Linked DNA regions of Homo sapiens: all the other regions are linked to region 1. The links come from fine-mapping of genetic effects on gene expression. A gene starts in region 1. Each other region holds a variant in brackets. All regions are shown on one strand. Distances are from middle to middle.

Region 1 (8,186 bases):
ATATGACCATCTGATTTGCTTCAGTCCATGAGATACTAGCAGCAGTGATGCACCACTTCCAAGCTGAAGCTTTAAAAGCAAGTTCTAGGTTTGCCATGCATCTTTTCTCCCTGCAACAGCAAATGGCAGTGTTCTAGATAGTGACCAGCTTGGGGTTAGGAGTTAGGATGACACAGCAAACTTCACAAAGGACAGGTAGCACAAGTGAGAAACAAAAACCTTCATTGTTTTAAGCCACTGTGATTTTTGAACTTTTTGTTATCATAACATAACCTACATCCTCCTGATTGACTCACCTTCCTTTAAGTAACTGTATTTGCCATCATCTTAATTCACTCCACAGATATGTGTTAGCCAAAATGCCAAGCGCAGGGCTAGATGCTGAGAAATGCATGATACTGACTCTTTGTTCTCACGGGGCTCACAGTAATGGGAGGAGAGTGAGGGTCATTGTCAGGAGTCTTTTAAAAATAACCCCAGTTCTTTTGTTTAGCTAAAGTCGAGGTTTGGAACTACTGGTTTTGTGCACATTGAATACTTCATAAGTGTGCTGACTGCCTGCAATTTTAATAACAGAGAAGCTAGAGATTTTAATAAGTCAGAAAAAAGGTTGTATATGTGGAGAGAATGAAGAAAGAAATGATTAACAAAGTAAGTATGAGTACTGTACTTTATTTTGTCCCTGGGTTGCCCACAACTTTCTGACTCAGCTATCCTATCTTTTTTTTTTGAGATGGAGTTTTGTTCTTGTTTCCCAGGCTGGAGTACAATGGCGCCGTCTCGGCTCACTGCACCCTCCGCATCCCAGGTTCAAGTGATTCTCCTACCTCAACCTCCCAAGTAGCTGGGATTACAGGCACCTGCCACCACACCCAGCATTTTTTTTTTTTTTTTTTTTTTTTGTATTTTTAGTAGAGACAGGGTTTCACCATGTTGGCCAGGTTGGTCTCAAACTCCTGACCTCAGGTGATCCACCTCAGCCTCCTAAAGTGCTGGGATTAAAGGCGTGAGCCACCACACCCACACCTGGCCCTCAACCATCTCTTTCACCTTCTGCTCATGACAGTTTACTAGAATTTTTTTCCCTTGAGACTGAATGTCAAGTCAAAAACAATAAAAAATTGCTAATCATTACTATGACTCCAGAGCTACTTGCTTCTTTAAAAATTCCTGAAATTATAAAATATAAAGCCAAAGCAATGAATTTCTAATGGTGGAATTGTAGACACTGTGGCCCCCTGGGGATGTTATTTCAGATGGGGCAAGGGGATATTCCTAACCTATTTTAAATCATGCCAGCCTAGATAACTATGTGAAAATTATATGGGTGCTTAGCAAAACTATTAACTAGCACCCCTTTGGCAGTTTTACATTAAAAATCCTTTATTAGCTTAGGTATGACCTAGTGATTTTTAAAATTCATTACTGATTTTTGAAAGCCTCCTCTTCAAAACAAAAAGAGCCCATTGTTCTTAACTGGTAATACCAATTACTCCTATAAACTATATGTTAAAACCAATCTTACAGCTAATAGAAGGGTAAATATGAGGCCAACTAATGTTTATACTTACACAAGTATCTACAAATATAAAGAAGTAGCTCCTTAATAATTTCTAAAAAGAGACCCATTGATTAATCTACTTGAGTCTCTTAGCAAATGCTACTGTTTAATAACTCATTTGATGGTAGTAAATTTTCTCCTGAAGCTACCCTTTCTTTATGACTAGGCAATAAGGTCTGTGGATCTGGGAGACCTACAGTTGTTATTCAATTCCTCTGCTTCCACGTAGTGTGATTTGGACAAATGACAGGCCCTGCTTTTCTCCATTACTACCAGGATGGAAGTTGTAGCCTTCTCAACTGTTGTGGCAATTAATTGCCAAGTTCTTGGTCAACTGTCAAATCTTGAGTCGAATATGGATCTCATTGAGATGCTTTGGAACTGTGTAGGAGTAGTCACTCCCACAACATTTATCTCCCCCTTCTCCCTTACTAAGAGAGCCCTGATTTTCTAAAAGATGACTATGTGCTCAGTTGAAATACTGTTTACACTCCCTTGCAGCTATGTCTTGTGACCAAGTCGTGATCAGTGAAATGTAAGTGAAGCATTGACAGAATCCCTTCCTAAATAAAAAGACAAAGCCTAGCAAGGAGGCCTTCTGCCTTTCACCCTTCACTCTTTCCCTTCTTCCTGCCTGGAACACAGATGTAATGCAAAAGAATAAACCATTTTGTAGCCATGAGGATAAAGCCATACATTAAGAAAGACAGATCAAAAGATCTGGGTTCCCAGATAGCATCTTGAAGCTATTTTATAAACCCTGGGCAGTCTGCTTTCAGACTTCTTTTTACCATGAGAAAAATAAATTCTTGTTTGGTTTAATCACCAAGAATGAATTTTTATTATGTGCAACCAAGTGCAAATCCCAGCCAATACAATCTATGGACTCATGAGGTCTTCATCTGGATCTCATTCCTCTTCTCACCGAATCAAGACTCAGGGTCATCTCTGAGCTGTAGGGGAAAAACCTGAAACCATAAAAATTCTAGAAGATAACATAAGAAAAACTCTTCTAGACATTGTGATATTCCCCTCCGCACCCCATGTAGCCAGAGGCACCTATTGCCTCAGGGAAGAATAGGATTGTTAAACTAGGAAAGTAGACAAAGGCAGGGTAAAAATAAAGCCTAATTGGTTACCCAGAGGTCCAATTTGTATAGAAAAGGCAAAATAAATGCACAATTGTTTTCCTTTTCCTAAAACAGTTTTGAAAATTATGAGCTGGTTCCCTCTGAACCATCAAGCAATCAATCTGTTCAGTTGTTTTTAAAATATTATCAATTAATAGATATAATCATGTTTGATGTGTTTTAAACAATTGCGATTATCTTTTTTTTTTTTTTTTTTGATGCTCAAATTAGCCCGTCTTTGGTCAGTGACAGCCTATTTGAATTGTCCCCTTCTTGACACAACCCTAGTGGTAGTTGATAGTTTTCTTGCTTTCTGAAAATATTTACAGATAAAATGATATGATGCTCTGGGATTTGCTTCAAAATGATGACATAGGAAAAAGGGGTATAGATGAAATATGACTGTCCATGAGTTCATAATTGTTCAAGCTGGTTATGGCCCCATGGAGATTCATTATACTACTTTCTTACATTTGTATATGTTTGAAATTTTCTAAATTAAAAGTTAAAGATAAAAAAATTCAGTCAGGCACCTATAGTCTGCAAGCACTTGGGAGTCTGAGGCTGGAGGATGGCTAGAGCCCAGGAATTCAAGACAAGCTTGGGCAACATAGCAAGATTCAGTCTCGAAAGGAGAAAGAAAAAGAAAAGTTGAGTCTTGAATGCCTGGCTTTGATTGGGGGGTGGGGGGAAGAAAAATATTTCTAAGTTCCCTAGGCTTCCCTTTACTTATTGATGAGTAGGCCCAGAGGTCTGACTACAGAGCTGTACTCTAAGTCAGAGGTCATGAGCTCTCAGGATATACCCATTACCCCCATTGTAAGGAGGGCATGAAGAAACCCTCTTGGATGGGGGAGAGAACAGAAGGATGGAGGGTAAGGAGAGGGGAAAATGTGCGAAAAGCTTTCAGAGCTTCACGAGTTGGGTACCTCTTGGCAGCTTTGCTGGTGGTCACAGGGTTGGGTAAAAGGGGTTCCCTCACTACCAATTTGTCTTACCACCGTCTTCCATTCTTTGGCCCAGATTCTAGTCTCTCATCCCCAACAAGCCTGATTCTATTTCTTGTGGTCAAGGGGATCTTGCTTTCCAGATAGGACAGGAAGGAGCACTGGGCTGGACATCCCGAGGCCAAAAGCCGAAGCCTGTCAGTGATTCAAAATGACACGGGGTTTTGGGTCTCACTTTCATCACCCATGAAATGAAAGGTCACCCTGCAAGACTGAAGCCCCTGCAGTGTCCCAAGCATCCAAATCCAACACTCAAGAAACCCTGGACCCCAACAGCCTGTCCTGCAGGCCTCCGTGCCTTTTCATTGAACGTCTTTTCCACCATTACACATCACATCGCCTCCTAAAGAAAAGCGCGACTGCTATCACTTTTTGCAGATAATTGGAGAGGCGGTGCCCAGCATAAGATGACCCCAAAGTTGACAGCACTTTCAGGCTTTGTGAATTAGGCGCGTCACCGACCTGTACGATTTCTCCTCTCTGCCCTTGCTCGCCTGCAAATCCTGACCCCCGTCCACACTGCGGAGAAATCTCCTAAGAGACGGCTGCCAGCGTCGCCTCTGCGCCCAGGAGGCGTGGAGCAAAGGACTCGGGAGCTGAGCGCGCTGCGGCCCCGCTCCCAGCGCACAGCGCACAGCCCAGAGGGAGGGGCCGGCGGGGGCCGGGCAGCGCCAGACTCGGAGCGCCGGGCTCACAGCGGCTCAGTCTCCTCCCGAACCCAGCCCGGCTGGCGAGAGCGGCAGCCAGTGCGAGCCAGAGCCCGGGCCTCAGAGCGGGTAGGCGGAGGGCCGGCGGACTGGAGCGGCGGGCCGCGCTCGGGGGCCCCGCCGTGTGCGCGTCCTCCCATCTTATCCTGGTAAGTGCGGGCGGCTGCGCCCCGCCTGCCGCTGTAGCCGCTGTGGCGGTCGTCCCCGCATCCCGGTTGCGCGCATCCCGTTGCTGCTCTGCAGGCTCACAGGTGGCTCTGCCGTGGATGTGGGCGCCCCAGGCCCCGCTAGGAGTTAGCCAACTCTCTGTGCTCCGGGGCGTGGATTTGGAGCCCCCGCCTCTCCTACCCTTGCTTTTGGCTTGGGATGGGGGGCGTGGGGCAGGGCCTGCCGTCGGGGGAGACGCGCAGAGGGGCGCTTCCATTCCCCAGCCACCTACAAACGACTCAGGGGGATGCGGGCCAAGCGCCTCACCAAATGCAACCCAGCTCCAAGCTCACAGGTGGGGCGTCTGTCCTTTAGATTTATTTTCCTATTAATCCACCAGGGAAAGTTTGGGACCACGCAAGGCAAAGTTGGGGCGCGGCTGGGGGCGAACATTCTCCTACGGAGGCAGCTCCCGGGGAGACGAGCGGTGGGTTTTCAGGGGGAGCGAGGATCGGGCTGGAGATGACTTTGCGCCCGGGGAGTTGAATCTGTCCCTGCTGGTCGCCCGGGCCGGGCATTTACACAATCCCCTGAGTGCTGTGAATCGCTTAATCGTTCCTGCTAAGCGTTGACGTTCGCAGCCACCTGGGAATCTCCGTGATGGGGTCGGGTTATCTCAGGAGTAGCAGCAACTCAGCGGGGTTGATTTGTGCTCTTGCTTTGCTCTGAAAACCTGAGCTCCAGCTAATCTCAGTATTTAAGTGGCGTGTGTTTAATTAGCTTATTTTACACCTGAGATTATCTCAGCGACTGCCTCCAAAATGAAATCGTTGATATGGAAAAGAATAGTCTTTTTAAAGAAAAACTAAAAAGAGAACTCTTCAGAATATCAGCTGTCAAGTCTGGCTATTTTACCCATCTCCTCCGTGGGATAGAGAAAGAAAACTCTGCTTTGGATATCTAACCTATTAAAGTCAGTGGTGGGGCTATTTTGGGCAGATTTTGTGGACAGAGGTATTGCTACAACTTGCGTATTGTTTATGAAATACACATGTGGTCTCTCGAAATAGCCTACTTGTTATTTCACTGCATTGGGAGTTCTTTGACTTACTAAGCTGCCTATTTTAAATATGACTAAAGGTTGTTTTTTTAAAAAAAATATTTAGCTGAAAACAATGTCTAGATGTTTAGGGAAGGCAGCTTGTGCATGTCACCAGAATTTTTTTTTGTAAACTTAAATTTGTAAAGGACTACTTTCCCGCATCTGATAAAGGAGAGACTTTTTATGAAAAATAAGATCTGATATCATTATGTGTGCAGAAAAAAGATCACTAAATTAAAGAATCACTCACTTTCCAAATGATAGGTTAAATCAGAAAAAGTTGCCTACAACTGAGAATTATGTAATTGGACCAAAAGTAAACAATGAATAATTGTTAGTTGCCAAGTACCTAGACAGTTCTGAAAGAAGTCTAGGTACCTTTATAGCACTGGAAGGTTATTACATGATTTAAGGTGAGATAATCTGATAGATTTTCACCTGTAAAATTTTTATTCTTACATCTGCCTTCTCTGCACCTAACATTGGATTTACCAAAATATTTATTTGGGTTTATACATACATCTTCATAAGTGCCACATCCCATACTAAGTGCTACATATGTTTTTACTCATCTTGAAAACAATCCTGGGTGGTAGGTACCGTAATTGTCCCCATTTTAAATGAGGAAACTGAGGCACAGAGAAGTTAAGTAACTTACCCAAGATCGCACAGCTGCAGGACAGGACTTTATCATATCTGCAAAGATCTTTATTAAAAAGACGTGATTTTATGATTTACTTATTCTCGTTTTTATTTTTATTTAAGCATAAATGATGAAAGTTTCCTGTGAAGCATAACAATCCCTGATTGTGAAAGTACCCCACAAGCATCGTTAACTATAAAGTAAGGAAAAGTATGAAAGAACCATCTGGTTGAGTCTAAAGTTGGAAGATCACCATATCCACCAGAAGACCCAGGATGGATCTGCAACAAAGCACCACCATCACTTCCCTAGAGAAATGGTGTTTGGATGAGTCACTGTCTGGCTGCAGAAGACATTATAGTGTCAAGAAAAAACTGAAGTTAATTCGAGTCTTAGGCCTTTTCATGGGTCTGGTAGCCATTAGCACTGTCTCATTTTCAATCAGTGCCTTTTCTGAGACAGATACACAGAGCACAGGAGAGGCCAGTGTTGTAAGTGGCCCTAGGGTAGCACAGGGTTACCATCAGAGAACTCTCTTAGATTTAAATGACAAGATTCTGGATTATACTCCACAGCCACCTCTTTCTAAGGAAGGCGAGTCTGAGAATAGTACAGATCACGCCCAAGGAGACTACCCGAAAGACATCTTTTCCCTTGAGGAGAGAAGAAAAGGTGCGATCATTCTGCATGTCATTGGAATGATCTACATGTTCATAGCCTTAGCCATTGTCTGTGATGAGTTCTTTGTTCCTTCTTTGACTGTCATCACTGAAAAACTGGGCATCTCTGATGATGTGGCTGGAGCCACCTTCATGGCTGCAGGAGGGTCAGCCCCAGAACTTTTCACATCTCTCATAGGGGTATTTATCGCTCACAGCAACGTTGGCATAGGCACAATTGTAGGTTCAGCAGTATTCAACATCCTCTTTGTTATTGGCATGTGTGCTCTGTTTTCTAGAGAAATCTTAAACCTGACATGGTGGCCGCTCTTTCGAGATGTGTCTTTCTACATTGTTGACTTGATCATGCTGATCATATTTTTCCTGGATAATGTCATCATGTGGTGGGAAAGCTTGCTTCTCTTAACAGCTTATTTTTGCTATGTGGTTTTCATGAAATTCAACGTCCAAGTAGAAAAATGGGTGAAGCAAATGATAAACCGCAATAAGGTCGTCAAGGTGACAGCACCAGAAGCCCAAGCAAAGGTTGGTGGTGGTGGATTTTTATTTAATGCTTTTCTTGACTACGGTTCTGAATTATTATGTTTTTGAGATCTGCAGTTCTTTTGATGTGATGGTGTTTGGGGCTCTTGTGGATAGCAGATTGATTCTGCAGTTCTGTGATAGCTAGACTAACATAGCAGTGGAAAAAATAATTTTGGGGTATTCTTGCAGATGTTTACTAAGTTCCTCAGCTACTTGCTTCAGAGTAAAACACTTGTAAATATAGGTTACATAAGCCTCCCAAAGCCAATTCAGCAGTTATTTGTCTCTTATTTTCTGAAAGTGGGCATAATGATTTTGTGAACAATTTAATTTTCATAGGAAAGTGTGTATGTGCCTAGAAAGTTGCAAGGCCTTTTCTTTTTAAATGAACACATGGCAATTACCAAGAAAGAACCATCTCTTTAGAGATGTCTGAGGAAGAAAGTTTGTGTCACCGTAGCTGTACCTTCCAGTCAGCAGCCTAGCCCAGCAGGGCTTGTCATTATTGTTGTCATGGCTGTTTTTCTTGATTGACACAATCATGTCTTAGGTCACTTGACCAGGAACTGATCAGCATCCATTGTAAAGAGAATCATTGGCCAGCCCTGCCATCTGCCTCTGCATCACAATGACCCACTTTGCACACCATAATAAACATGACTTCAACTATTTTTAGAGTAGAAT
Region 2 (8,186 bases), 56 kb after region 1:
TATTCTAGATGTTTCTTATTTTTTATAAAAATATATCAAAATGTATACACCTTGAATGCAATTGCATTTTATTTTTTAACCTTTTAAATCATTACTGTTAGTAGTGTACCGATTATATGGATATCTTATTGTAACGAGATAAATTTGCTAAAATAAAGGCATGGGAAATACTTTGTAAAATAAATATGTAATAGTGGTGGGTTATTCATGCCTTTGTTTTATGACACCATCATTCACACATGGCCATCAACAGAACACCCATGCATGTTTCATAATAATTAAATATAATAATCTTTGACATTTTGCTAATTTTCAGTCATATATAAACAATAATCATAATTTTATTTTGTTACCATGAAGATATATTTGTCAAGGAAGGAGAAGAAAATATATTTTGACAGTTTTCTTAGCTTCTTAAATTTATTAAATTAACACATTCAGATATGTAGAATGTGGACCTCTATCTGTCTTCATGCCCCTGTCCCCGCAAATGGGCCTAGATGTGTCTGGCAAAGTTCTTAGTGCAGTGCTGCAAAGAGGAAAAGGTAGCAGATGTCCTTGTCCATCATGTTCTTCAAATATTATTTGTTCAATACTGATTTCTTTTGCTTGCTCTATCAATTCCTGGCAGAAGTGTATTAAAATTTCCCACTATATTTGCAGATTTGTCTGTTTCCCATTTAGTTCAGTTAATTTTTGCTTTGTCTTTTTTGAAGCTATGTTATTAGACATTATAAATTGAGAATTATTACATCATCATGATGGGTTAACTCTTGCATGGTATAAGATTATTTCTTTTAAGACAGGGTCTTACTCTTTCACCCAGGCTGAAGTACAGTGGCATGATCATAGCTTACTATAATTTTAAACTCCTGGTCTCAAGGGATCCTCCTGCCTCAGCCTGCTGAGTAGCTAAGATTACAGGTGCACACGACCACACTTGGCTAGTTTTATTTTTATTTTTACTTTTATTTTTAGAGACGAGGGTCTCACTATGTTGCCCAGGCTAGTCTTGAACTCCTGGCCTCAAGTGATCTCCCCACTTCAGCCTCTCAAAGTGCTGGCATTACAGGCATGATGCATCATGCCTGGCCTGGTCTTGATTTCTAGAAATTCTTATGGCTTTAAAGTCTACTTTGTCTAATTTCAGTATTGCTAAACCAGACTTCTTTTGGTTAATGTTTATCTAGAATTTTCTATCCTTGCAACATTTTCAAGCTCTTATATTCAAAATGTATCTCTTGTAAGCTGCAGGTGATTGGGTACTGATTGCACTGTTTTGTTTATAATCAGTTAATTAGATTTAATCAATTTGCATTTGATGTAATTTTGGGTATATTTGGGGTTTAAATCCATCATCTGTTTTCTCTTACTGAGACTATATTATTTTTCTCTCCTTTTTTTGCTACTCTTTGGATTAATCAAGTATTATTATTATATTTTGTTTCCCATCCCTATTTTATTATTCCGTTATTAAAATTGTAGAGAACATATAATGCATGCTTAACTTACAAAAGCCCAATATAAATGAGTACTTTTACCATTTTCCAGACAGCATGTACTAAGAATCTCAGAATATTTTAATTTCACTTAAATCTCTCCCACTGTTTGCGTTACTGTTATCACATATTTTAATTCTTTTTTTTTATACTTTAAGTTTTGGGGTACATGTGCACAACGTACAGGTTTGTTACATATGTATACATGTGCCATGTTGTTGTGCTGCACTCATTAACTCGTCATTTACATTAGGTATATCTCCTAATGCTATCCTCCCCCTTCCCCCCACCCCACAACAGGCCCTAGTGTGTGATGTTCCCCTTCCTGTGTCCATGTGTTCTCATTGTTCAATTCCCACCTATGAATGAGAACATGCGGTGTTTGGTTTTTTGTCCTTGCGATAGTTTGCTGAGAATGATGGTTTCCAGCTTCATCCATGTCCCTACAAAGGACATGAACTCATCATTTTTTATGGCTGCATAGTATTCCATGGTGTATATGTGCCACATTTTCTTAATCTAGTCTTATCATTGTTGGACATTTGGGTTGGTTCCAAGTCTTTGCTGTCGTGAATAGTGCCGCAATAAACATACATGTGCATGTGTCTTTACAGCAGCATGATTTATAATCCTTTGGGTATATACCCAGTAATGGGATGGCTGGGTCAAATGGTATTTCTAGTTCTAGATCCCTGAGGAATCGCCACACTGACTTCCACAATGGTTGAACTAGTTTACAGTCCCACCAACAGTGTGAAAGTGTTCCTATTTCTCCACGTCCTCTCCAGCACCTGTTGTTTCCTGACTTTTTAATGATTGCCATTCTAACTGGTGTGAGATGGTATCTCGTTGTGGTTTTGATTTGCATTTCTCTGATGGCCAGTGATGATGAGTGTCTTTTCATGTGTCTTTTGGCTGCATAAATGTCTTCTTTTGAGAAGTGTCTGTTCATATACTTTGCCCACTTGTTGATGGGGTTTTTTTTTTCCTGTAAATTTGTTTGAGTTCTTTGTAGATTCTGGATATCAGCCCATTGTCAGATGGATAGATTGCAAAAATTTTCTCCCATTCTGTAGGTTGCCTGTTCACTCTGATGGTGGTTTCTTTTGCTGTGCAGAAGCTCTTTAGTTTAATTAGATCCCATTTGTCAATTTTGGCTTTTGTTGCCATTGCTTTTGGTGTTTTAGACATGAAGTCCTTGCCCATGCCTATGTCCTGAATGGTATTGCCTAGGTTTTCTTCTAGGGTTTTTATGGTTTTAGGTCTAACATTTAAGTCTTTAATCCATCTAGAATTAATTTTTGTATAAGGTGTAAGGAAGGGATCCAGTTTCAGCTTTCTACATATGGCTAGAAAACCCATCATCTCAGCCCAAAATCTCCTTAAGCTGATAGGCAACTTCAGCAAAGTCTCGGGATACAAAATCAATGTGCAAAAATCACAAGCATTCTTATACACCAATAACAGACAAACAGCCAAATCATGAGTGAACTCCCATTCACAATTCTTCAAAGAGAATAAAATACCTAGGAATCCAGCTTACAAGGGATGTGAAGGACCTCTTCAAGGAGAACTACAAACCACTGCTCAACGAAGTAAAAGAGGGTACAAACAAAGGGAAGAACATTCCATGCTCATGGATAGGAAGAATCAATATTGTGAAAATGGCCATACTGCCCAAGGTAATTTATAGATTCAATGCCATCCCCATCAAGCTACCAATGCCTTTCTTCACAGAATTGGAAAAAACTACTTTAAAGTTCATATGGAACCAAAAAAGAGCCCGCATTGCCAAGTCAATCCGAAGCCAAAAGAACAAAGCTGGAGGCATCACGCTACCTGACTTCAAACTATACTACAAGGCTACAGTAACCAAAACAGCATGGTACTGGTACCAAAACAGAGATATAGACCAATGGAACAGAACAGAGCCATCAGAAATAATGCCACATATCTACAACTATCTGATCTTTGACAAACCTGACAAAAACAAGCAATGGGGAAAGGATTCCCTATTTAATAAATGGTGCTGGGAAAACTGGCTACACATATTTTAATTCTAACTACATCCCTGCATGTAGTTAAGAACATCCCTAAACTGTTCTATTTAGTCTCTGCTTAAATGTTACTTCCTCAGAGAGACTTGCCTCTATCATCATAATTAAAGTAACCTCACCCCACCCCTTTCTTTTCCATTCCCTTATTCTGTTTTGTTTTTCTTCCTGGACTTATTACCTGAAATAAGAGTATTTATTTGTTTTTGCCCATCTGTAGCATTAGAATATAAGCTTCAAAAGTACGGGAGTTTTCTACCTTGTTCACAAAGGTTTGGCCCAGAGAAGGCACTCAATAAATATATGTTAAACCACAAACGTAGGTCAGAGGTGCCCAACAGAGACAACCATTGAGTCTTAAGAATGAGAAAATCAGGGGTCCAGAGGACATTGGAGAACTTCTGCAAACCACAAGTAAGATTATTTTTATAACAAGAAAACTTGGAAGAGATACCAGGATCACTCCAGAAATAACTAAGTGGGCAGATTTCCTCTATTCATGATTTTTCATTCATTCAATGCTTCCTGAACACCTGTGCAAATCCTGGGTGCTGAGCGAGGTGTGAGTGCTGTGCTAGTCTTCATGCTGGGTGCAGCAAGCTGCGTTCTCTGTAGGCTTCCTTCACAGATTGTCATTGGAAATCAGACCTGTTTTCACTTAAAGGTGTGAGGAGGCAATGGGCTGGATGACTGAAGGGGATATTGTAAGAGAACGGAAAGAAGATCATCTTGCTGGTGAGGCATTCTGGGCTGAAGAAAATCAAGAGCTTTGATTCTGATACCCTTAGGTCAGTAATGTTCTGACAATATCCAAATGATGTGAAATGCATTCACAAATAACAGGTATACCGAATTGTTCCAAGAAAATTCTAAATCCAGAGCCTCTGAATTTATAGTGCCCTGTTCTCCCCATCATTGAGACTCAGGCACCAAAGGGCAGTAGTTCTGGAAACTTGGACCAAGATACCATCCAGAAGGTAGCTCACATGCCCAGCGTGTTTAAAAAAAAAAAAAAGAGTCACATCTTAAGACTTCTAAAATGTGTCATCCTTATGTGACTTCATAGTATCATTTTCTTCTCTGTAGCAATTGGGCCTGAAATGGTCTAAGGGATACCTCCCTCTAGCTATTACTCATTTATGAAACAATAAAACAAAAAGGCCACAGGTTAATTCCTAGGTTTTACTCGCAGAATGGCAATTGAAAAATCTGGATTTTTTTTTACACTGGGGCTGCATTATTTTCACATTTTCAATTCTCAGCCTTTTCTCCAGCCTGACA[G/A]GCAGATGGGAGGGCAGCTGGCCCTGCAATCAAAAGTGACCCTGGCAGCCAGTGTCTCTGTTTCATGGTCTGCCCTGAGACAGGCAGGCCTGGGTTCTGCATTTGAAATGTGATTGGCAAAGTGGCTGCAGAGGGAGAACCAGCACAGACACGGGGGAGAGGTAGCTCTCAGATTGCGACGTTAGGATTATATACTAATGTATGACTGACATTGCCAAAGCCTCATTAAGACATTGCATATGTTCCTTAGCTTGATTGAATCTTTCTACAATTTATGCATAGATCACAACATCACACTGTGCCCCGTAAATATACACAATTATTTGTCAATCAAAAAGAAATTAATTAATTTAAAAAAATAAGAAAGGCTGCCAGCCCTGATGGAGTTGCATGGGTTGGGGTTCTCATGCTCTTTAATAGCCAGTATTGCTAGTATTTTTTCAAGAGGTGGTCTCAGGCCACTATGACATTCCAAGCTACAAGTCAGAGTTTTCTCTGAAAGCTAATCAGACTGTGGAAATTAATCCCACAACCTCTGCCTCTTCAATGCCAGCCAGGGGGGCTAAACCACTTGGAAAGTTTTGGCAGCAGACATAATGTGCCCACTAGGGGTCAGGGGCTGGGCTGACCATAGCTGGACAAATATTTGCACCTGCCCTTTTGCAGTTCTGTCTAAAAGTTCACCAGGAAGAGTTTTTTTTTTAACAAAACAAGGAGTTCTTTAAGGTCTTATATTGGACATCCATAAAAAACACAGCAATAGGTATCATTTTTGAGCACCTGCCATGTGCCAACCCAATCTCAGTGCTTCTCCTCCATGTTTTCAAATCCTCACAACCCTGGTAGATATTGTCATACTCATTTCACAGACAAAAGAGATAATATTTGCTCAAGTGGTTGGACAAACTGGCTCACAATGTATAGGTTACGCTGCCAGGCAAAGTGAGAACACAGTTCCAGTATGTGTGAGGTCCTGCTAACAGGTTGCTGTGCAAAGAAAAGTGTGGGCAGCCTGCAGTCACCATTTATTTGGTGTCAACCCTGTACTTGGTATTATATTTGATGTTTTACCTATGCTACATGTATTAGTCAGCTTGGGCTGCTATAAGAAAATACCACAGACTGGGTGGCTTAAACGGCAGAAATCTATGTCTCACAGTACTGGAGGCTGGAAGTCCAAGATCAAGGTATCCACTGATTTGGTTTCTTCTAGCTCATAGATGTTCAACTTCTTGCTGTTTTCTTGTATAGCCTGTGTGCATGTGCACACATGCACACACACACACACACACACACACACGGAGAGAGAGAGAGAGAGAAACAAGTGTTCTTAAGTGTCTCTTTTTATAGGGACACAAATATTAGATCAAAGCCCCACCCTTATGATTGTATTTAACTTAAATTACTTCTTTATACTATCTTCAAATACAGTTACATTGGGGGTTAGAGCTTCAACATTTGAATGTGGGTGGGGTTGGTACACAAACATTCAGTCCATAGCATTATGTATAATCCTCACAAGAAATGTATTTTACAGATGGAGAAACTGAAGCTCAGAGAAGATAAGTTATACTAGTAGTTTATGACAGAGACAGGATTCAAACATAAATCATAATTCTAAAATTCATATTTTTTCCACCAGCTAGACCACCTTCTAAAGTTTATTTGGGGCTTGATATCGAGACAATATATAAATGAGAAGAATTGCTAAACTTGATTTATCAGCTGCCTTATGTTGTATACTAGTTTGTTTTATGCTGGCTTATTTTGAAAGATGAACTCAAGACAAATCAATTATCACTTAGCATTTGAACAAATGGACTATGAAGCAAAATGAACTGAAAAGTGTGACAGTTTTAAGTAGGTCAGGTGCTTGAAAGATGAATATCTTTTTTTCCATTGTCAAAAAATTTTATTATCAAAGGTAAAAAAAAAAACCTAAGAGTTATAGGATTTAAGTGTAGAAAGGAGTAGGAGTGATGATTTAAACACTATTAAATGTGACTTTAAATGTAGTCATTTATGCTTAGAAAATATATGCATCGAAAAATATTTTAAGCATGTTTAAATTTTTAATGCAAAAGTAATATATTCATATTTTAGCAATTCAGGCAATAAAGGGATGAAAACCATTGTCAATATACATATGTGTGTATTCTAAGCAATAAAACAATGACTCTTAAACTAGATATAAAATTCTACAACTAGCTTTTTAAATTTAATATATAAGTTAGATATGTTTTCATGTTGCTATGTATAAACTTACCTCATTTTGTGAAATAATGGCCTAGCATTCTTAAGGTTGTGAAGTCATTTAACTGTTCGCCTACTGGTGGGCAATTTAGGTTGTTTTCTATAATCACAAAAATATAACATTGAACATCTTTGTAATTCTACCTCTGTATACATGGACAGATAAATATATACGTTAAATAATTATCATATATTTATGTAATTATTTATCCTACAAATATAACTATGTAATTTATCTGTAGGATAAATGCAATTACTGTGTCAAAAGCCTGCACATTACTGATCTTGATACATATTGCCAAGTTACCTTCAAGATAAATTTTCACATTCAAATATTTTCCAAAGACTCATTCTACATTAAAGGCAATGAAATATTGTCATGGTTCTCACTGCATTCTGTACCTTCTCTTTGGTGACACTTGTTCAGAGGCCTGAAGGAAGTGAGGGAGACACCTGTGCTGCTGTGGGTACCCTGCAGCCTTGGGTAAAGTGACCTGGCATTCATTCATTTAAATGGCAGTACTTTTCTATTTTTTTTTAATTTTACGTTTTCAATTGACAAATGATAATGGTACATATTCATAGGGTACCTAGTGATGTTTAGATCCATATAATAATGTATAGTAATCAGATCAGGGTAATTAACATATCCATCATCTCAAACATGTATTATTTTTTTGTGTTGGTAATGTCTAATATCCTTCTTCTAGCTACTTGAAACTATCTAACATATTTTTAACTATAGGCATTCTATAGTTGAGATAGAGCACTAGAACTTATTCCAGGTCTCTAGCTCTAATTTTATATCCTTTAATAAATCTCTCTCTAGCCCTCCCTTCCTCCTTCCCTATCCAGCCTCTTGTATCCTCTTTTCTTCTTTTTACTTCTATGAGATCACCCCCTTTTTTTCTTAGCTTCTACATATGCGTGAGAACATGTGCTGTTTAACTTTCTGCTCCTGGCTTATTTCACTTATCCTCAAGTTCCATCCACATTGCTGTGGATGACAGGATTCCATTCTTTTTATGGCTGAATAGTATTCCATTTTGTATGTACAACACATTTTCTTTATCCATTCACCTGTTATTGGACACCTAGG
Region 3 (8,186 bases), 100 kb after region 1:
AAGATAAAAACAAAACTCATTCTAAGGAAATTTTCTTTCTAATCAACTTAACTGAAATGCAGCTTTTTTCTTTTTCTTTGTTTGTTTATTTGTTTTTCTTCTATGCAACTCTTTTAAAAAAGTAAACTTTCCTACAGCTTTTCCGTATACCCCAGTGACTACTTGGAATCACTTTTAGGTTTTGTGTTCAAACAAAGATTAACAAATGTGTAGTAAGTCTACCAAATGATACCCAGCTTTCTATCGGCACCATTTTCATGTTTTCTCATTGTACTTTGCCACAATACAATGAGGGAGATGTTATTCTCTCATTTTGCAATCAAAGAAACTGAGGCTCTGGAGAAGTTATATGATGTGCCTAAAGCCACACAATCAGTAATCCATAAAGCCAGGATTATCAAGTCCTGTTTTCTAAATCCAGGGCTCTTTTCGCAGGGTATTAGTAACATATTCTAAACTAAAATATTTTATTTTGCACATTTAATAGCACCTTACTTCAAGATTTATACAAGCTACAAGCTGAACAAATTGATTTGCAGGTTATTTTTAGAAATCATTTCACCCATCACTGAGAGGAGCCTTCACAGAGCTTTTCGAAAGCATACAAAAATATTGCCTGGCAGTTTAATGAAATGGTAAAAGAAGAGAGATAAATTACTGGAAAGTACAGAGTGTTTATGCATAAACACTAGAAGACACACATGGGGCAAAGGGATGACTCCCCACTGAACTGCCTTGTCTGAATTAACATTTAAGTAACGCAAGCACCTTTGTCATTGCCTGGATCCTGAGGGGTCACAGCACCTGACTGGAGCATTTGTCACCCAAATTATAGGGTTCAAATCCAATCCTAATGACTTGGGGTGCTAATCAAGACAGCTGAAAGTAGTAACTGGTAGGAATCTGATTTGGACTCAAGGAGGAATGCAAAGGTCAAAGCCAGAGAGCAAGTAAGTACCAAAGTCAAGTGTAAAGGTAAAACCCCAAACAGGAAAGTGGTCCTATGATCCCAAAGTTGGAAGCTCAAGAAGAAGTTGAGAAACACGGCGTGGAACACATTGGTACAATGTTTCAGAATGAGGAATGTGAACGGTGTGAGGAAGTCAGGAAACATTTTCCGTCATAGCTATGGCCTGATATGTGGGACCACCCAAATGGACAAAGGAATTTGTCTGTTTGCTCCCTAATTGATTTCACCTTCGAGTCTATCACACGAATTCCTACAGAGTTTCATAATGGCTCATAAACTTTAAGTAACTTGAGGACTATGTACACAAGGGGTGAGTAACATGCCATTTTATACATTACATACCCCAAACACAGTGAACTTGTTCCGTTTTGTTTTTTGATTTTTATTTTAGGTTCGGGGAACATGTGCAGATTTGTTAGATACATAAATTGTGTGTCATGGGTTTGGTGTACAGATTATGTTGTCACCCAGGTAATAAGCATAGTACCCAATAGGTAGCTTTTTGATCCTCACCCTCCTCTCATTCTCCACCCTTAAGTAGGCCCTGGTGTTTATTGTTCCCTTCTTTGTGTCTATGTGTACTCAATGTTTAGCTTGAACTTATAAGTGAGAACATGTGGTATTTGGTTTTCTGTTCCCGTGTTCACATAGGATTATGGTCTCCAGCTCCATCTATGTTGCTGCAAAGGACATTATCTCATTCTTTTTTATGGCTGCATGGTATTCCATGGTGTACATGTATCACATTTTCTTTAGCCAGCCTACTGTTGAAGGGCATTTAGGTTTATTCCATGTCTTTGCTGTTGTGAATAGTGTTGCAATGAACATACACATGTGTATTAGTTCATGCTCATGCTGCCAATAAAGACATACCCAAGGCTGGGTAATTTATAAAGAAAGGAGGTTTAATTGACTCACAGTTCAGCATGGCTGGGGAGGCCTTGGAAAACTTATAATCATGGTGGAAGAGGAAGCAAACATGTCCTTCTTCACATGACGGCAGGAAGGAGAAGTGCTGAGCAAAGGGAAGAAAGCCCCTTATAAAACCATTAGATCTTGTGAGAACTCACTATCATGAGAACAGCATGAAGGTAACCGCCCCATGATTAAATTACCTCCCATGGGCTCCCTCCCGCAAGACGTGGAGATTATGGAAACTACAACTCAAGATGAGATTTGGGTGGGGACATAGGCAAACCATATCAATGTACATGTGTCTTTATGGTAGAATGATTTATATTACTTTAGGTATATAGCCAGTATTGGAATTGCTGGGTCAAATGTTACTTCTGTTTTAAGTTCTTTGAAAAATCACTTCACTGCTTTCCACAGTGGCTGAACTAATTAACATTTCCACCAACAGTGTCTAAGCATTCCCTTCACTCTGCAACCTCACCAGCATGTTATTTTTTACTTTTTATAATAGCCATTATGACTGGCTTGAGATGGTATCCCACTGTGGTTTTGATTTGCATTTCTCTAATGATTAATGATGTTGAGCATTTTTTCATATGCTTCTTGGCCATGTGTATGTCTTCTTTTGAAAAGTGTCTGTTCATGTCCTTTGCCCACTTTTTAATAGGGTTGTTTTTTGCTTGTTAATTTAAGTTCCTTATAGATTCTGGATATTATACCTTTGTTGAATGCTTAGTTTGTGAATATTTTTCCCATTATGTAGGTTGTCTGTTTACTCTGTTGATAGTGTGTTTTGCTGTGCAGAAACTCTTTAGTTTAATTAGGTCCAATTTGTCCATTTTTGTTTTTGTTGCATTTGTTTTTGGCATCTTCATCATGAAATGTTTGCCAAGTCCAATGTCCAGACAGTATTTCCTAGATTATCTTCCAGAGTTTTTATAGTTTTTGGTTTTACATTTGTCTTTAATTCATCTTTAGTTGATTTTTGTGTATGGAGTAAGGAAGGGACCCAGTTTCAGTCTTCTGCATATGGCTAACCAGTTATCCAAGCACCATTTTTTGAATAGGGAGTCTTTTCCCCCATTGCTTGTTTTTTGTTGACTTTGTTGAATATCAGATGGTTTGGGGGTGGCTTTATTTCTGGGTTCTCTATTGTGTTCCATAGGTCTATGTGTCCATAGATCTATGTGTTTTTGTATCAGTACCATTCTGTGTTGGTTACTGTAGCCTTGTAGTATAGTTTGAAGTTAGATAACATGATGCCTCCAGCTTTGTTCTTTTTACTTAGGATTGCCTTGGCTATTTGAGCTCCTTTTTGGTTCCATATAATTTTTAAGATAGCTTTTTCTAATTCTGTGAAGAATGTCATTGGTAATTTGATAAGAATAGCATTAAATCTGTAAATTGCTTTGGGCAGTATGGCCATTTCAACAATATTGATTCTTCCAATCAATGAGCATGGAATGTTTTTCCATTTGTTTGTGTCATCTATGATTTCTTTGAGCAATGTTTTGTAATTCTCATTGTAGAGATCTTTCACCTCTCTGGTTAGCTGTGTTCCTAGGTATTTTCTTCTCTTTGTGGCTATTATGAATGGGATTGTGTTGTTGATTTGGCTCTCAGCTTAGACATTGTTGGTGTTTAGAAATGCTGGTGATTTTTAGCATGCTCCAGTGGCGCAGTCAGTTAGCATGCAGTACTTATACAGAAATGCTAGTGATTTTTGTACATTAATTTTTATCCTGAAACTTTGCTGGAGTTATTTATCAGATATAGGAACTTTTGGAGAGAGGGTGTTGTTTTCCAGGTGTAGAATTATATCATCTGCAAACAAAGATAGTTTGAGTTCCTGTCTTCCTATTTGGATGCCTTTTATTTCTTTCTCTTGCCTGCTTGCTCTGGCTAGGAATATTAGTACCATGTTGAACAGGAGTGGTAAGAGTAGGCATCCTTCTCCTCAAAACATAGTGAATTTGTTAACCCAACCAAGAACCAGATATGAACTCACCTCTGCAATGCTGCCATCTTGTCATCT[G/TCTG]GGTTGCGTTTTCCAGGTTTCTTATATACCTACTTTCTTCACAATTTGTCTTTCGTAATGAAAGACCCAAATTCCAGATATCAACAAGTCTAGATGAAACTCACTACCCTGAAACCCTTAAAATGTTCAAGGGTCACCTTTGCCTGTCAGATAGACTGGGGTTTCCCCTTCCTTAGTTATTTGGTGCTGTTATGCTCACTTGTAGTGTGGGTCTTTAAGGTACTGCTCTCCCCAGCCACATGTCCTGAATGCTTCAGGAAAAGCACTCCATCTCTCTTTGATCATCACGGAAACTAGTTTTGATCATGTTGATCAAAAAGAGCATCATCAAGAGTCCTGAATGGAAGTTTGCTTTAAGGATGTTACCCTAGTTCTAGAAGAAGAACTTCCTTGAAGAGGAAAGAGGATGTCCTTCAGTGCAGCAGCCTGATTTCCAATGGGGGAAGGGATTCTTGCCTCTTTTAGAACAAACCACATCGTCCAAGGAGGACTGTCTGTCTCTTTCCCAGGCCTCAGAAATTTGAATGAAATGTCACAAAACAGTAAAAAAAAGTTGGAGCTTATTGGCCCTGCAGGGGCATCCTGAAAAGATTGCCCATCAGTTCCTGCTGCCTGGTCCCCTAGAGCACCCTGTGTCTACTGTTTTTAAACCCAATTCTTGATTTTCTTTCAATCCAGTGAGTTCCCCATTCCTTACAATAAATTGCCCTTTCCAAATTAAGCAGGAAGTTTCTTTTGCTTGTAACCATAGTATTCCAAGGGCTACTCCCCAGGAGGGGAGATGGTGAAAAGCCAGACACAGGGAGGAACTGCCAGGAAGTAAGAGAAACAAAAAGAGGTGTGGAGCCCCTGGGCCCAGGACCGGTAACCATGAAATCACCAACAGCTTTTTTAAGTGTTTCCTCCCCGCCTCAAAAAAATAATGTTTTTAAATGCTCCCATCTCAGCACAAGAAAGCTGTTCTAGCTATATAAAATTTCAGTTCTGCTTATGCTTAGCTAGATTTTCATCACGTGGTATAGCGGTCCTTGCTAATTCAGAAGCTCTGGTTGAAAGCCTCCATTTAAAATAAGTGGGAAAATGAACTAAATATTGTTGTGTTAGTGAGGTTTGGTTGAACACACATTTCATGAAAAAATAAATTTATGTTTCTTGGAAACTGAAAAAAAAAAAAAAGTTCAGAGCACAATTTCCAGGCAGGACACTGAATGTGAAATGAAGATCACCTGATCACAATGGCTAGGTGTGGTCAGACCAAATGCCCATCACCTTTTCTGGACTCTTCCATTTCCATAAAGACAATGAGCTCCTCCATCTTTCAAGATACCGCTCAACATCCATGTAATCTCCCAGAAACCTATGCTGAGGCAATAGTTCCTTTCCCTTTGCTTCAGTAGCACTCTAGGAGCAAAGACCTGTGTTTCCTGCTATCAGTTTTATAATTGTTCAGGTTCATCCTTCTGTCCCACTAAACTGCATCTTGCCTGTGGGGGATTTGCTTTCAGAGTTTTACCTCGCCGCACTTACAGCGTCTAGCATACAGTAAGTGTTCAATAGTTAATGTACTGTCCTTTCAAAGGATTTCATAGTAAACCTTTCCCTCCTCTCCCTTTGGCAAATGCCCTGCACTGAAATTTTGCATCAGCATTATGCTAGGAATGAAATTTGTGTAGCTGATTTTTCACGGTGGGTCCCTAGCTTTACTGCACTCATAATGTGTATTTTTTACTCTAAACCTTTTTTGAAACAGCTGCTTTCAGTTTTGTTTTGTTTTTTAATCCATCTCACTCTGAGACAGTACAGCTAATCAATACATGAAGTAAAAAGAATGGAAAATGGATGTAAGTCATGACTTTTCTGGGGTTTCCCTTTGGCCCTACCTTCAAAAATTTTCCACCTCTTCCATAACTTGCTTAGAATAAAGACAAATTAGTTTTCATGATGAATGTATTTTAATATCAACTAAATACATCTGTTTAATCCCAAATTAAAGATGCCATGATATTTCCTATGGATATTTCTTACAGTACGTTTGTGTATTTAGAGGTCACCTCTACTTAACGCTGTGTTTCTCCTGCTCCCTGTATTATTGCTGTGTCACACTATATAATGTAGTGGTTATACTTTGCCATGGAAACAGGCCTTTCCTCAGGGTTTTCTGCATACCATGGCCACAGAGATTGAGATGTTCCACTTCTGTGGTTTGGTGTTGAAGTTTTTCCCCTTTACTATTTTAGTTAAAATTTACAGAAGGGGAAAAGAGCTCTGAAGGTGAGGGTTGCTATTGCTGGCATCTTTATTCCTGCTACTATCCATTAGCAATTTAATTTAAGGTAATGTTTCTCCCGGTTGGGCTTACAGAAGGGCCCAGGTTGTATTCTCAGTTATTGTACTTCTGTATGCAACCGTCTACTATCAGCACCAAAACAAACATTCAATGTCATTTCACGTGTGCTGCCTTAGACATTGAGACTCTTACTCCTGGCCCAGGGAACATTTGTGGATGTTCATCACTGCAGGTGAGCATTGTTATAGTTAGAATCTTAGCTCTGGAAAAAATGTTCACATAAAGCACATCCATGATGCAAGATAATGAGTTTCAGAGGCTCTCTAGGTCCCAGTTCCCATTAACCCATGGCAGAGAGAACTGCATAAGAAATGTCAACGTAAAATCAAGCTAGCAAATTTGGACAGAAGAAAGGACGATCAATCACCCTGGCAGAACCCATCAATCAGTTCCTATTTCTGTTACATGAAGGAGTTGTTTCTGCAAACTAGTGTTTGTTACACCTCTCTCAAATATTCTGCGAACATAATATACTGCTTCTTAGATAAAGGTTAATTGAATGAGTCTCTAGAGAATGAAAGCAAATGATTTTGCCACTCACTAATCTATAGATCCTCAATATGTCTCTGAAATGCTCATGTTAACTAAGAACAAAGATGACAGCCAAGCCTGCTAATGTTCTACTAGTGGGCTCTATTATTGCCCACTGCTTTATTTTTATGGATTGTGCTGCATAAAGAATGTTTTTCCTCCAAAACCTTTTTTAGCTGAGCAGTATGAACCAGGGGCAAAGAAGATGGAGACATGGAAATCCCAGGGAGACCCAGTTCCTCCACAGGACCGTGGGTGGTTTGCTTTCTGCACTGCCCCCACACCTCAACTGGGTTAGGCTAGGGATTACAGCAGGGAACAAAAGAGACAATGTTCCCTGCCCTTGTGGAGATTACATTCTGGAAGAGGGAGCCATAGTATAAACAAAATAAGTAAATGAGATAGGATGTTAGTAGATGAGAAGGGCTATGGAAAAGCATGAAGGAGAGAAAAGAGATAGGGAGTTCTGCGGTGCAGAGAGGTTGCAATTTTAAATAAGGTGGACCGGAGAAAGCCTTCCTGAGAAAGGTGATATTTGAGCAAAGACTTGAAGGAAGGGAGGGAGATAACAGAGATCTATGTGGATAGCTAGTGTAAACAGCATTGCAGAGAGAATAATGGATACCTTTCTCTCCAGCTGGAGAGACATAAGCAAGGCAGGTGAGGTCAGAGAGGTAAGATTGGAAGCAGGTAGTTGTAGATCTGGAGTCTCTCTATAAGGGCATTGACTTCTGCTCTGAGATAGGGGGCCATTTGGAAGGCTTTCAGTGGAGGAGAAATATATTCTGACAACATTTTGTGCAGGGTCACTCTGGCTGCTGTGTTGAGAACAAGCTGGGATGAAGGCAGACAGGGCAGGGAGACCAATAAGCCAGAGGCTATTGCACTTATCGGGCAGGTGGTAATAGTAGAGGCCTCCAGAAGTGGTCAGATTCTGAGTGCATTGTGACACACACACACACACACACACACACACACACACAACTCTGGTATATATTTTGAGTTTAAAGTCAGCATAAATGTCTGATCATTTCTTGATTAGAAAGAAATAACTGTCACTAGTTGTGAACTTCTCAACATTGTGAAATTGAGTTTTCAAATGTTTGGAAGCCATGAATCTTTGCCTTAAAATAAGTAAATCTGAGTCATGGGAAAGACTGTAGAGGTAAGGGACCCCAAAATGAAATATATACTTTCATAAAGTTAGCTATGAATATATATATATATATGTTATAGAACTATCTGCATTTCTCATAATGTTTAAGAAAGTGGCGTTAAAGCATTATTGTTAACAGCCATTTTAATGAGCGAAAGTTGTACAAAGAAACTCGGATTTTCAGCTGAACCTTGTCAACAGTAGAGAAGGAGCTGTGGCAGACCCAAACCTC

Direction of the effects. Positions count from the first base shown, and alleles are read on the strand shown. Sizes are in standard deviations (SD) of each study's normalised expression. Not every link is listed here.
For the expression in neural progenitor cells of the gene that starts at base 4,402 in region 1, G is the high allele of the variant in region 3 and TCTG is the other (moderate effect, 0.65 SD a copy in Aygun 2021).

What was found.
Region 2: its variant is fine-mapped to the expression of SLC24A2 in cerebellar hemisphere (GTEx, PIP above 0.99).
Region 3: its variant is fine-mapped to the expression of SLC24A2 in neural progenitor cells (Aygun 2021, PIP 0.95).

Annotation. Positions count from the first base shown.
Region 1 is chr9:19,785,253-19,793,438 of GRCh38, reverse strand. SLC24A2 (solute carrier family 24 member 2) reads left to right here and starts at 4,402. Exons shown (of 11, transcript NM_020344.4): 1 at 4,402-4,554; 2 at 6,420-7,502. The coding sequence starts at 6,573. It overlaps LOC124902128 (a long non-coding RNA gene), which reads right to left and starts at 4,280. Exons shown (of 2, transcript XR_007061432.1): 1 at 4,161-4,280; 2 at 2,379-2,514. RefSeq lists a silencer at 81-281 and an enhancer at 4,839-5,486.
Region 2 is chr9:19,729,465-19,737,650 of GRCh38, reverse strand. All of the region lies in intron 2 of SLC24A2 (solute carrier family 24 member 2), which reads left to right. Among named protein-coding and RNA genes, the nearest start is that of SLC24A2, 55 kb to the left of the region's middle. The variant G/A (reference allele first, on the strand shown) is at 4,835.
Region 3 is chr9:19,680,447-19,688,632 of GRCh38, reverse strand. All of the region lies in intron 2 of SLC24A2 (solute carrier family 24 member 2), which reads left to right. Among named protein-coding and RNA genes, the nearest start is that of SLC24A2, 100 kb to the left of the region's middle. The variant G/TCTG (reference allele first, on the strand shown) is at 3,921.